Homo sapiens: one gene and its partners. The protein of the gene in region 1 purifies or fractionates together with the protein of each later gene. This does not show direct contact. Each region holds a gene or a part of one and is shown in the gene's direction. Other genes may lie near its edges.

Region 1 (3,570 bases):
AAAATATTTCCAACTGTGCTGCCCTTCCCAGAATGTGACACCCTAATCACATCCAGTTCTGGGCACCAGAAGCTAAGAGGAATAAAGAAACTTCTAAGAGGAATCAGATGGCCACAGAACTGACAAAAGATTAGCGAATTCCTATGAGGAAGAGTTAGAGAAGTTCCACTATTACAATGGTGAGGCCACTTTGAGTAAGTAAAGGGTAATGATGCAGAGGCTTCGAGTGACTCTTCTCTACCTCTGTGAAGAAGGCGGGCAGACAGGGCTCTACTGCAGTCTTCATCATTTAATTCAGGAGAGGAGGGTATTTAGGCATTGGAGGGAGGTTTTACTGTCTTCTTTCCCAGATATCTTTAAACATGGAGACAATTCTCATTTGTCTGGAATAAACCTCCTGAAAACAGAGAGGTGCCCATTATTTGGAGAGAGGCCAATGGCTCCAGCATGGAGATCTGCAAGGCCAGGCGCTGCAAGCCGGGGGCAGTGGCACTGGACACCTCGCAGGGGCAAAGCACAGCTGTTGGCAAGCCCAGTCAAGAGTACACTGACAGTGTTACTCTCAGAGAGTGAGAGAGTTCCAGGGCTGGAAAGGGCCTCTAGATTATCTACTCCAAACCCCTCCATTTAAGATGAGGAAACAGGCTGGGCTCATGCCTATAATCCCAGCACTTTGGGAGGTTGAGGCGGGCGGATCACAAGGTCAGGAGACCGAGACCATCCTGGCTAACACGGTGAAAACCCGTCTCTACTAAAAAAAATACAAAAAATTAGCTGGGCATGGTGGTGGGCGCCTATAGTCCCAGCTACTCAACAGGCTGAGGCAGGAGAATGGTGTGAACGCAGGAGGTGCAGCTTGCAGTGAGCCAAGATTGCGCCACTACACTCCAGCCTGGGCGACAGAGCAAGACTCCATCTAAAAAAAAAAAAAAAGATGAGGAAACAGACTCAGAGAGCAGAGTGACTTATCAGAGCTCACCTGGCTAATTAGTGACAGGACCAGGTCTGGAACCTAGGTTTCCATACTCCTAGTTCAGGTCTCCTTTCACTCCATAATGCTAACAAGCATTGGCAAAATAAAGTGCATATAGCTTCTATTCTAGACTCTGGATGCAGGGCTGACATACAGATCAGCTGTCTTCCAAGTGCTTAATGTCCAAGACACTGAGTCTCGAAGAAAGATACAGAGAGTGAACAATTAAGAGAATAAGCTCATTGCTTAATAAGAACATGACATTGTGTACAAGTCAAAGGTAAGTGCACAGGAAATCCAATCTGAGCAGATGATGTGGAGGATAAGACATTTCAATTTCTCACCTCCTTTTCTTTTTTCTTTTCTTTTCTTTTCTTTTTTTTTTTTTTTTTGGCGGTGGGCGGGAGAGGGACAAGGTCTCATTCTGTTGCCAGGCTGGAGTGCAGTGGCACGATCTCGGCTCACTGCAACCTCCGCCTCCCGGGTTCAAGTGATTCTCCTGCCTCAGCCTCCCAAGTAGCTGAGATTACAGGCATGCGACACTCTACCGCCAGGCTGATTTTTGTATTTTTAGTAGATATGGGGTTTCACCATGTTGGCCAGGTTGGTCTCAAACTCCTGACCTCAAATGATCCACCCGCCTCAGCCTCCCAAAGTGCTGGGATTACAGGTGTGAGCCACCGCACCTGGCCTCTCACCTCCTTTTCTAACCAAAGTGTGTTTCCCAGAAAGAAATCTGAAAATCATAGGATGAGGAAATTTTATTTCACTTGAGAGAGAAGGTGTAGTAAAATGTGAGGAAAGGTGGAGAAGAAAACAATTCGAGTGACCTGAGACACCTCTGGATCTTAACACTGAGAAATGGCAGCATCAACAGATGACAAAGGGAAATACCAGTGGGGAAACAGTGGAGACTGATAAGGCAAGTGGAGGGTACTTTTCTCTGGGCTTGAGCCAAGATTGTCACATTGGCCCAGCCAGCACTATTGCTAGAAGGCCATGTGCCTTTTGGGGAAGAGGAATTAGGCTGTCAGTACTATGGGACAGTAGTATGGCCCATCTGGGGTGGCTTGGTAGAAGCTGGCCCCTCCAGCTATACCTCCACCAAGGCAGGAAGCCACTGGAAGTTAGCAACTAGGAAACAAGATTAGATGACTAGTTCAAAGGAGAAATGAAAAGCGTTCTAGGCATGTCTGATCTAGGTTGATGCAGGGGAATCTTTTTGAGTGTGTCTCTCCCTTGGGAAGGAAATTCAAGTCTATCTGTAAGCTAGAAGTTTCCTAAAGCCTGAATTGCAGAGGTTTTGTGTTAGTCATCTTAAGGAGGCTACCTGTGGTCCCCAAGTCATGCCCAATGGAGAGATCTGGCAACTGTCCATTTCCTGCCTCTTCATCTCCCTTGCAGACACCACTCAGTCAACCTTGTATTCATTTGGCTATTTGGTCCAGCAGCCTGAGGCTGGAAGATAAATGGAAGCCATGGGTTTCTACCTAGGAAGAACTTGATTAAAGGGGATCCTCACTCTCCCCCACTCCCGCACTTAATGTCTGCACCTGCGGGGAGTCACGGTTAGTTCTCGACTTTGGCCAGTTGAGGCCTTCTGACTCTCAAAGAGGCTTCACTCTCTCTCAGCTCTTTGCTATTTTCGCCTTCGGGTCCTGTGGCTCCTACAGCGGGGAGACAGGAGCAATGGTTCGCTGCAACAACGAAGCCAAGGACGTGAGCTCCATCATCGTTGCATTTGGCTATCCCTTCAGGTGAGCAAGAATTGGTTCCAACCCAGCACATCATCTCTCACTTGACTGGCAGGACCTGCTTGGTCTCTTCCTCCTCCAGAAACCTAAAAACCATTCATTGCGTGCCACTCCAGATTCAAATAGAATGACAAAACTTAGATCCTTTCTGCTTTTTAGCAATTTCAGACACATTGACCAGAGCAAAACGTAAGGGAAATACAGATTGATCACTGTTATAATAATGTTCCAGTCCATGGACAACCCATGGCAGGTCACACCAGCTCATACAGAAAGAGCCAATGCAGTTTGGGATGGAGGCTTACAGGAACCTGGACAAGCTGGACAGGTCTCTCTGACCCTCAGTAGCCTCCTCTCTGCCTTGAAGGTAGGGAAGCTTATTAGTACTTACATCCTAAAGAGTTGATGTGGGATCCTCAGCCAGTACGACCAGGATACAAGTGGGCACACCTTGACAGGGAGGTAGAAGTGATCTCTTTTCTGGGTATTTGAGAGCTTAGGAAGTAGGGAGCCCAGGTGTTCAGGGGAAAATGGGGATGAGGCTCACCTTTTCAGAAATTTCTAGTATCAGCACCCAAGTTATATTAACTGTCTCATATATAATAGGCTGTGTTTTTCTCTTTAATTTGTCCACTGTCTCATTGGAAAGCCCAATAAAGCCTGAGAATGGGTGATTCCAACCTTATCTTGGCCACTCTGGGCCTGCACTTTCCAGAGGCAGAATGAAGCTGATCTGCCTAGTGGTTTGGCTACCAGAAAGAGAAGAACTACATATATTGCAGTTGTGACCTAAAGGGCCCTGGAGACACTTGGGAATACATGGTCACCATGTCTGGGCAGGGT
Region 2 (3,570 bases), on another chromosome or scaffold:
TTAAATAAGTCAAATTAGTGATTTGTTTGGTTTTGTTTTATAAATAGACATTTTAATTTAGTAGTAGGGACAGTCCAGCCCATATAAACATATGTAGTTCAATTATAGATCCTTAATACCTAATGGATTAAACCTGGACCTTAATTCAGCCTAATGTTGGGAAATTAATGTAATCTTTGGCAGAAAAGAAAACCTCCAGAGTTCCCGTTAGGCAGTGGAATGTAAAAAGGGTATTCTGGATTATCCAAATTTAAGATCTTCATGTATATTTTAAAATATTCAAATTATTTTTCTGAGAATACTATGGGAAAATCTAGGAATTTTATCAGTACCACATTTAGCTCATAACTCTCTAATATGAAGTTCAAAATATATTTGCATATAATTACATTAGTTTGCATGTTTTACTGCTTCTTTCAATTTATACCTTTCCCACATTACATTCTATTATAGCTGCATGTATAATTTTCTCCTGTTACATTTATTTTGGTTGTTTTCACCTTTGAATTGATTAGTGTCATTTGTTCAAGTCTACAAATCCAGTAATGTATGGGCAATAATACTGGGCTACCATTCTTCTTAGTAAAATGTATACATCTCATTAAATGCATAGGACCATCTATAAGGGTACAGCAAGTAGAATATATTAATTTATGTTTTTATTCAGTTGTATTCGTTTTAAATTTTAGATTTTATGTATTTTTTAAAATAGGAGTAATCAAACAATAATACATGTATAGAATTTAAAATTAATTTAAACATACTGGGAGTGAATGATCAAAAACTTCTTTCTCATTGATATAAGTAAAAATCAAAGATTTTGGACATCACAGGACTACTGAACAAAGAACCAAGGAAATCAGTGAAATAGCGAGAAAGCTGTTATTATTATTACAGTGTATGAAGAAACACTAAGAATTCCAGGACAAAAAAGAATGTTTTTCTGTTTTTTTCCCCTGTAGAGTAATCATGTTGATCCTCAAATTTCTCTTAGTTATAAAAGATACTTGCAAGTAATATGTTCAGTGGGAAATATCATTTGAATAACAAAGATCATTAGTAATCTTTGCATTTATATTCTTTAAGAACTATACAAAGTTACATACTTGAAATATTGAAGCATTAAAACCCATGAAATTAGACATTATTTCAAAATAACAATATATGATAAATTCATAAGAAGAGAATTATTTTCTTTTCCTTAGCTTTGACTTTATTACAAAGTTAGAATTGTGATATTTATATACCGATTAACAGGATTAACAGTGAAGCCTTTGTCTGATGAATTTCAATATTCATGTGTTTTGTTTCTAATTATATTTTTGTGGAATGAATTTTGAAAGTTATTTTATGACTTAATGAGAAAGCAATCTTGCAGTGTTCTTATGTTATTTACATTTAGAAGTTTTAATTTATCTCTTTTTTAGGTTATAGGTTGAGTCCTCAAACATTAACTACTATTGTTAAACGTTATAGCAAGAATGGCAGAATTTTCTTTGATGATTATGTTGCTTGCTGTGTGAAGCTTCGAGCATTGACAGGTATTGACTATTTAAAACTAAGTGCACAGTGTTATGTAGCTATTTTTCTTGAATAATGTGTCTCATTTCCTCCAGCAAGTTTATAATAATATGTGTTTTCTCCCTTTATTCACTGTTAAATCTAATTAGTTTAAAGGCTTCAAATATTAAGGAATATAAATGATAAAAACGTTATGTTATTTTTGGAAGTTTTTCTCATATCTCTGTTGCCAGGGCTATTCAATCACTTAATATTTAATTGAATATGAAATTATTCTTTTTGTGTACCTGGGTGCACTAAATATTTGAAACTATGTATTTTAAATTACAATAAAAAAGTAATTTCTTTGTTTAAAGATTTCTTTAGGAAAAGAGACCACTTGCAACAAGGGTCTGCGAATTTCATATATGACGATGTGAGTATCCTGCTTTTGATATTTATACTGCATTCTAGATAGTTCTCAGTTAGTAAAAAAATTTAAGTGATCCCAAGTACCAGTACTGGAAATAATATATTTGGTATGCCACATACTTTTCCATATTTTTCAGTGTAACACAAATATAAGATTAATATTGGTATAGGTGCCAAACAATTTGACTTCATGTTAAATTGTAAATATGCTTTTCAATTTTTATGACAGGTTTTTTGAATTAAAAAAAAAATGATCTTTCAAATCACTTTTAAGGGCCAAAACCACCATTATTTTTAAAAAGGGTAGTTTACTGTAGTGATATTTTTTCTCAGGGAGGGAAAAATTTTAATCCGTGACGGATTATGAAGCTGTTCATTTCTCATTTCAAATGGTTACTATTAACCTGATATTCAGGGTTTTTTAAAATTCAAGGTATAAGACAGTTATATTTACCTGTGCTTTAATGTTTCAGGGTTTTTGTTTTGTTTTTCTTATATTTACTGATGGAAGTTATGGGGTCAACATTACTGATATTTATTGGCTTGAATTATAAGCCTTGGAAACAAACTTTTCTCTCTTAAGAAAATGCTCTTATGGAATATAATTAGTCAAAAATAATTAAAAACCATTTTATTCTTAATAGATAATAATTTCACTTATGTATTAGTTTTTGCAGGGCACTATGGCAATTTGAATGCTTAGAATTTTAAACCTGAAGAGACACTGTGAATTCTTTTGTTTGGAAGAAGTGAACTGGACTACTTTAAAACTTTTAAGGGTTTTCTATGTTCTTCCTACCTGTTAAACCTCTTCCCTTTCTGTGTGTTTTTATTTTAGCAGATAGTTCAAAGCAATAAAAGATTTCTTTTTTAATTTGAGGTATTACTGCTTTTGGAAAAGTTATTTTATAAATATGTGCATATTGTCATAAAATATTGTATGATTAATTGATTTAAATAATGCTTAGCCTTAATTTTAGATAATGTAAATTTAGAGGAATGTACTTTACAAGATAGATTGTATAAGAAGCCAAATAATGAAAGCCTAGAAAAAACTAATTTATACTTATCTGAAGGTTACAAATTAGACTTTTAAATTTTCTTTGTAGTTGGTGGTGTTTGAGGGTTGGCTAGAAATGAAAGCCTGGATTTTGTGCCATGTTTGTAATATAGTTTGTTCCTTGATCAAATAATCAGAGAAAAGAAACTTAAAGATCTTTGTCTGTGAAGAAGAAAATTATCTCCCTAGTTCAATCTGTAGTGAAATAAGACTACAGAAGGCATTGTTTTTTCCTTTTTTATTTTTTGTATTATATATTTTTCTTAAATATGTTTTATTGTCTTCTCTAAGCAAAAAGTTCTTAATAAACATAGTATTTCTCTCTGCGTCCTATTTCATTAGTGAAGACATAGTTCACCTAAAATGGCATCCTGCTCTGAATCTAGACTTTTTAGAAATGGCATATGTTTTTGATGATATGTCAACATTCAAAATTGTCCTAATTAAATTGTTGTTTAAATGTAATGTCAACTCTTTATAAACTTAAAAATAAACAAGTAATTAACCACTCTAATTGTTCAGAAATTTTACATTTGACTTATTTGACAACATTAACATTAGTGGTGGCTTTGCCATTA
Region 3 (3,570 bases), on another chromosome or scaffold:
ACAAAAACAAAACACACACACACACACACACACACACACACACACAGACACACAACCAGTCCACCCAGCAATTCCACCCTGGGAATCTGTCTCAGAAATAGTCACTCCAGGAGGTGAGAATATCTGTTGGAGGATGTTGCTTGCAGCCCTGCTTGCGGTGAAGGGGTTAGGAAACAAACTGAATGACCCAGCAATAGGTACATGGTTAAATAAAATGAATGAGAGCACAGGAGCACAGCCACAACACAGAATACTATGCAGCTCTTTAAAATAATGAATTAAGGCCAGGCGCGGTAGCACATGCCTGTAATCCCAGCACTTTGGGAGGCCAAGGCGGGTGGACCACGAGGTCAGGAGTTCGAGACCAGCCTGACCAACATGGTGAAACCCCGTCTCTACTAAAAATACAAAAATTAGCCGGGAATGGTGGCACATGCCTGTAATCCCAGCTACTTAGAAGGCTGAGGCAGGAGAATCGCTTGAACCAGGGAGGCGGAGGTTGCAGTGAGTCGTGATTGCGCCACTGCACTCCAGCCTGGGCAATAGAGAAAAAAATAAAAATAAAATAAAATAATTTTTAAAAAATTGCAAATCGGGCTGTGTGCTGTGCCTCACACGTATAATCCCAGCACTTTGGAGGGCTGATGCAGGAGGATAACTTGAGGCCAGGAGTTCGAGACTAGCCTGGGCAACACAGTGAGAGCCACCTACCTCTAAAAACAGAAACAAAAACAAAAATTAGCTGAGTGGTGGTGCACACCTGTAGTCCCAGCTACTGAGGAGGCTGACGTGGGAGGATCACTTGAGCCCAGGAGATCGAGGCTGCAGTGAGCTATGATTGCACCACTGCCTCCAGCCTGGGTGACAGAGTGAGACCCTGTCTCTCAAAAAAAAAAAAAAAAAAAGGAAATCAGGTTATGCTCAAACAGGTGTGTCGAGAAGTCATTTTCAGCTGTAGGACAGGGAAAGGGAGGTGAGGAGACCAGCCAGGTCAGGTACAAGCCCTGATGCCCCCCACCCCTCCACAGTGGCGGACCTGCTGTACTGGAAGGACACGAGGACGTCAGGAGTGGTCTTCACAGGCCTGATGGTCTCCCTCCTCTGCCTCCTGCACTTTAGCATCGTGTCCGTGGCCGCGCACTTGGCTCTGTTGCTGCTCTGCGGCACCATCTCTCTCAGGGTTTACCGCAAAGTGCTGCAGGCCGTGCACCGGGGGGATGGAGCCAACCCTTTCCAGTGAGAACCCCCGGCCCCTGACCTGAGCCCCTGTCCTGACCCTAAAGCATGACCCACGACCTCAAATCAGGCACCGACTCCCACCCGGACCCCGACTCATCTTGATCATTTTTCATCCCGATCCCCTAACCTACCCTTCAATCCTAATCTCTGATCCTAACCTGGTACCCTTCATCCTCGATCCCTTCCCCTGACCCTGACCCTGACCCCAGCCCTCTACATATGATTCCTCTGAGCTGCCCCTCAGTCCTAACTCTGGTCTTCTCCCAACCGCCATTCCTCTCCCTTGTTTCAGCTGCCCCTGCACCAGTCTGAGCTGGTCACCCACTGAGTCGCCCCACACTCCTTTGTCCCCGCAGGGCCTACCTGGATGTGGACCTCACCCTGACTCGGGAGCAGACGGAACGTTTGTCCCACCAGATCACCTCCCGCGTGGTCTCGGCGGCCACGCAGCTGCGGCACTTCTTCCTGGTAGAAGACCTCGTGGATTCCCTCAAGGTGGCCTGGAGCTCTCAGCCCCTCCTGGGTTCCCCCATTCACCTCTGCATGGCTAGGGGGTGGGAGGGCGACTGTTGGGTAAATTCACAGCATGAGAGGGAATTCCCGGTGGGCTCTGCTGACCCTGACCTTCACCCCCAGCTGGCCCTCCTCTTCTACATCTTGACCTTCGTGGGTGCCATCTTCAATGGTTTGACTCTTCTCATTCTGGGTGAGCTGGGAAGGCCGTAAGGGGCAAATGGGGACTTGGAGTCTGGTGGGGGACAGGGCTCCAGATGGAACTGTTCATCTCTTGGGAACACCCTGACGCCCCCATCTCTGTACCCACAGGAGTGATTGGTCTATTCACCATCCCCCTGCTGTACCGGCAGCACCAGGTGAGTGTGACACCCTCAGTTGTCAGCACCCCAGCTAAACATGGGGGTCTGACCATCTCCTTCCAGAACCGGGGTCCCATTGACAGATGTCCCGGCCAGACACAGGTGTCCTGGCTGCAGCACCTTCCCAATACAACCAGAGTCTAAGTAACATGTCTTATCAGCATCAGCCAGGGACAGGCTTTTTGTTTGTTTTTGTTTTGTTTTGGGTTTTCTTTGAGACAGAGTCTTGCTCTGTTGCCCAGGCTGGAGTGCAGTGGTGTGATCTCGGCTCACTGCAACCTCCGTTTCCTGGGCTCAAGCAAGTCTCCTGCCTCAATCTCTGAGTAGCTGGGATTACAGGCATATGGCCACCGTGCCCGGCTAATTTTTGTATTTTTAGCAGAGACGGAGTTTTGCCATGCTGGCCAGGCTGGTCTCAAACTCCTAACCTCAAGTGATCTGCCCACCTTGGCCTCCCAAAGTGCTGGGATTACAGGCGTGAGCCACTGTGCCTAGCCTTTGCTGCCTTTTTTTTTTTTTTTTTTTGAGATGGAGTCTCGCTCTGTTGCCCAGACTGGAGTGCAGTGGCACGATCTTGGCTCACTGCAGCCTCTGCCTCCCAGGTTCAAGCGATTCTCCTGCCTCAGCTTCCCGAGTAGCTGGGATCACAGGTGCCTGCCACCATGCCTGGCTAATTTTTTGTATTTTTAGTAGAGACCGGGTTTCACCATGCTGGCCAGGCTGGTCTCCAACTCCCGACCTCAGGTGATCTGCCCGCGTTGGCCTCCCAAAGTGCTGAGATTGGCCTTCACTCTTGATTTTAACTGACATGTCAGTTAAATGCTACTGCATTCCAGCCTGGGTGACAGAGCAAGAGTCTGTCTCAAAAAAAAAAAAAAAAAAAACCAAAAAATAAAAAATAAAAACATAAAAATAAAATCAAGAGTGGGATGGCTGTTGCCCACAAGACTGACATTAGCAGGACTGCTGACATCCATCCTATCCAGAGACAGGCGGATGGACTGACAGCCCCTTCTCCAGCACAGCTGGGAGCCACATGATAATATGCCCTGCCAGTTAGTCCTAACTCTGTCCTTCACAGGCTGGAATCACCAAGACTCACAATTAAACTGTATTTAAATCAGGCCAGGCACAGTGGCTCACAACTGTAATCCCGGCACTTTGGGAGGTTGAGACAGGAGAATTGCTTGAGGCCAGAAGTTCAAGACCAGCCTCGGCAACATAGTAAGACCCCCATCTCTACAAAAAGGTTAAAAACTAGCCAGGTGTGGTGGCACACACCTATAGTCCCAGTTACTCTGAAAGCTGAAGCAAGAGGATGAGTTGAACCCTAGGAGGTAGAGGCTGCAGTGAGCTGTGATCATGCCACTGCACTCCAGCCTGGGCAACAGAGCAAGACCCTATCTAAAAAAAAAAAAAAAAAAAAAAAAAAAAAGGCTGGGCATGGTGGCTCACG
Region 4 (3,570 bases), on another chromosome or scaffold:
AGTTGTGCTGTATCTATCAACATTTAAAATGTAGGGCACATGTTCTTAGGACATCCTGAGTGCTGTGTCATGGGCAAAAAAAAAAAAAAAAAAGTACGTACACTTTTACTTATATCTTCAAATAATTCATTGTGGATATATTTGCACACATGTAAAGATATTGTTGATAATAGCCATGTTGTCTGTCATATCAAGAGACTACAAACTACCTGGCTACTTGGCATCCAGAAGACACTGTGTGTCCCATTCATATAAGGAAATGCTATGCAACTGTTAAGAATGGGGTGGATAGGTATACAGTATATTAACATAGAATAGCCTTCATGATTACATTGTCGAGTGAAAAAAAATCAAGTTTTCAACCTTGTGTACAGAATGTTCCTATCTGCAGTTTTTAAAAGGGAGTTGAGAGGGCTGTTGTGGACCTGTTTTCCTGTATATAATAGAATATTTCTAGAAGCATTCACAGACCTAGTTGCCTCTGAAATGAGGACTGAGGGTCTTGGTGGAAGAGACACTAATATAATTTACTGTTTACTTTTGAATACTACTTGATTTTTTAACCATGTGCTTGTATTACTTTTTCAGTTACAAAAAAGATGCAGAAAAGTCTACATATGTTGACACAGGAATTTATCAATTTACTTATACCTAGGGAATAATGTTTAGCAGACAAATCAAGTTGCAGTGGAATAATATGTACAATTTTTGTATGATGACAAAATTACAACTATCTGGAGTTTATAAAAACACATGTGCAAAAGGTCTTATCGCAGGCCTCACTGGTGGTGACTCCACTGCCAGTCTGTTTAATCAGTTCCTCCCTTTCGACGATTGCAGTTGGAAGCACTAGGGGTTATAGTTGTTCTCTGCTGCAATGTGAAAAATCAAGAGGGCTCATTCTCACCACTCCTTGAGTATTTACGAGGACTGTGAATGGAGTTGATTGACTTGCTCAGCCTCTGCTCAGCCTCCTACTGATAGGTTTGCCTGTCTGCAGGGACCGTATCCCTCAGCACATTTCCTGGCTTCCCCTGCAGCTGGGATTCCTCTCCAGTGAAGTGCACTGTGGGAGACTTGAGTTCAGAACTGAATCACTGGGGAGAGAGGTGGTATCCCCTTTCCTTGAGGGAACTAGTAGCTGTGGTATGGCTCCACCATGGCTTCCTGATCCCCAGATCCCAGCTGAAGCGCTTTCTTCTTGGTACCACCATGTGCAGGGGTGGCCTTGTGGTTTCCAGATGGTGACCTCTTTTTCTTCTTTCCTTTTACTTTTTGTGTAACATACTCTGTACCAGCCTGGGTGCCATAGCAAGAACCTGTCTCTATAAAAACTTCTTAAAATTGGCCAGGCATGGTGGCACAGGCCTGTAGTTCCAGCTACTCCAGAGACTGAGGTAGGAGGATCGCTTGAGCCCAGGAGGTTGAGGCTGCAGTGAGCAGAGATGGCACCACTGCACTCCAGCCTGGGCAACAGGGCAAGACCGTATCTCACACAGAAAACAAAAATACATTTAAACAAAACAAAACGAAAATACATTTAAAAACTCATTTATAAAAATAGGACAGGGGAAGCTGTAGGTATAAGAATGTATGCTGGGAAGCCGGGTGCGGTGGCTCACACCTGTAATTCCAGCACTTTGGGAGGCTGAGGTGGGTGGATCATGAGGTCAGGAGATCGATATCATCCTGGCTAACATGGTGAAACCCCGTCTCTACTAAAAATGCAAAAAGTTAGCCAGGCGTGGTGGCGGGTGCCTGTAGTCCCAGCTACTCGGGAGGCTGAGGCAGGAGAATGGCGTGAACCCGGGAGGTGGAGCTTGCAGTAAGCCGAGATTGCGCCACTGCACTCCAGCCTGGGCGACAGAGTGAGACTCTGTCTCAGAAAAAAAAAAAAAAAAAAAAAGAATGTATGCTGGGATGGTAGTTATTGCTTCCTAATTACAAATATTGAATATTAATCTTTCTGCTCTCCTTTCCCCCAGCTCGTGTTTGTTGTTTTAGCATTTTTAACAGGTGTGCTTTGTTCTTATCCTAATCCAAATGAGGACAAGTGCCCAGGAAATTACACAAACCCATTGAAAGTTCAGACGGTTATAATCCTTGGGAAAGTTATTTTGTGGATTCTCCATTTACTCCTTGAATGCTACATCCAGTATCACCACAGCAAAATCAGAAACCGAGGCTATAACTTGATCTACCGATCAACAAGGCATCTCAAGAGACTTGCGTTGATGATACAGTCCTCTGGTATGTCCAATTTTCTCTCAGCTACTTGGGTGCTTGAGGGACAAAAATGACAGCAGAAAGAATATATGAAGTTTGATTTTAGAATCAAATATATTCTCTCATTTTTGTAAGGTTGATGTGTGTTCTGACCACTAAAATTTGGATCACCTTAATGTCTTAAAGCTTTTCTTGGCCGGGTGCGGTGGCTCACGCCTATAATCCCAGCACTTTGGAATGCTGAGGTGGGCAGATCACGAGGTCAGGAGATCGAGACCATCCTGGCCAACATGGTGAAACCCCGTCTCTACTAAAAATACAAAAATTAGCTGGGCGTGGTGGTGCATGCCTGTAATCCCAGCTACTCAGGAGGCTGAGGCAGGAGAATTGCTTGAACCAGGGAGTCAGAGGTTGCAGTGAGCTGAGACTGTGCCACTGCACTCCAGCCTGGCAACACAGCGAGACTCCATCTCAAAAAAAAAAAAAAAAGAACTTTTATTATGAAATATATAGCCTTAATTTTCATTTGAAATCTGTTATTTGTTATGAACATGGTGTCCTCATAGCATGTGTGAAGTGTGGAATTATACCCTCTTTTGTTACCAGGTGGTTTACTCATCTCATAAAGATAGAAATGCTGTTGCTATTTGACATTTCTGAGGATAGGGAGAGGGAATTTTTAAATTTTATTTTATTTTCTCTGAGGCAGGGCCTTGCTCTGTCACCCAAGACTGAAAGGCAGTGGGGCCTTCATGGCTCACTGTAGCCTGGAATTCCTGGGCTTAAGCAATCCTCCCACCTCAGCCTCCTGAGTAGCTGAGACTACAGGTGCATGCCACCACACCCGGCTAATTTTTTTAAACATTTTATGTAGAAGCAGGTTCTCACCATGTTGCCCAGGTTGGTCACTGGAACTCCTGGCCTCAAACAACCCTCCTGCCTCAGGCTCCCAAAGCTCTAGGATTACAGGTGTGAGCCAGTCCTGGTGGGAACTTTTTAAAAATGAAGCTCAGTGCTTTTCTTGCAGTAGGAGACAGTAATGGTTAGTTCCTAGGATAGAGGACTGTTAGGCAGTGAGATGCATTATATCAAACAGAAAACTTGGAAAACACACAGGTCCTAATTTATGAAGGCAAGATCAGAAGGTCCACATGAGACTTAGAATGCATGAGTACTTGCTTTTCTTTATCGTTGCAGACATTTTAAAGATTTAATGGAATTAAATTGAACTTCTTTAGGTAAATTTGGCATTAAGTTATAGTAAATGGCCGGGCACAGTAGCTCATGCCTGTAATCCCAGCACTTTGGGAGGCTGAGGTGGGCAGATCCCTTGAGGTCAGGAGT

The links.
Region 2: the proteins of SYPL2 (region 1) and GCA purify together in Homo sapiens (affinity purification with mass spectrometry; one large-scale study listed by BioGRID and IntAct). This does not show direct contact.
Region 3: the proteins of SYPL2 (region 1) and RTN2 purify together in Homo sapiens (affinity purification with mass spectrometry; one large-scale study listed by BioGRID and IntAct). This does not show direct contact.
Region 4: the proteins of SYPL2 (region 1) and TMEM192 purify together in Homo sapiens (affinity purification with mass spectrometry; 2 studies listed by BioGRID and IntAct, with this or other methods). This does not show direct contact.

What each region holds. Positions count from the first base shown.
Region 1 is NC_000001.11:109,472,976-109,476,545, forward strand, and holds part of SYPL2 (synaptophysin-like protein 2), read left to right. Parts: intron 1-2,605; coding exon 2,606-2,730; intron 2,731-3,570.
Region 2 is NC_000002.12:162,357,617-162,361,186, forward strand, and holds part of GCA (grancalcin), read left to right. Parts: intron 1-1,427; coding exon 1,428-1,541; intron 1,542-1,877; coding exon 1,878-1,936; intron 1,937-2,600; coding exon 2,601-2,627; 3' UTR 2,628-3,570. UniProt on the Homo sapiens protein: Calcium-binding protein that may play a role in the adhesion of neutrophils to fibronectin. May play a role in the formation of focal adhesions.
Region 3 is NC_000019.10:45,487,012-45,490,581, reverse strand, and holds part of RTN2 (reticulon-2), read left to right. Parts: intron 1-1,028; coding exon 1,029-1,236; intron 1,237-1,595; coding exon 1,596-1,734; intron 1,735-1,875; coding exon 1,876-1,945; intron 1,946-2,064; coding exon 2,065-2,111; intron 2,112-3,570. UniProt on the Homo sapiens protein: Inhibits amyloid precursor protein processing, probably by blocking BACE1 activity. Enhances trafficking of the glutamate transporter SLC1A1/EAAC1 from the endoplasmic reticulum to the cell surface.
Region 4 is NC_000004.12:165,099,308-165,102,877, reverse strand, and holds part of TMEM192 (transmembrane protein 192), read left to right. Parts: intron 1-1,985; coding exon 1,986-2,250; intron 2,251-3,570.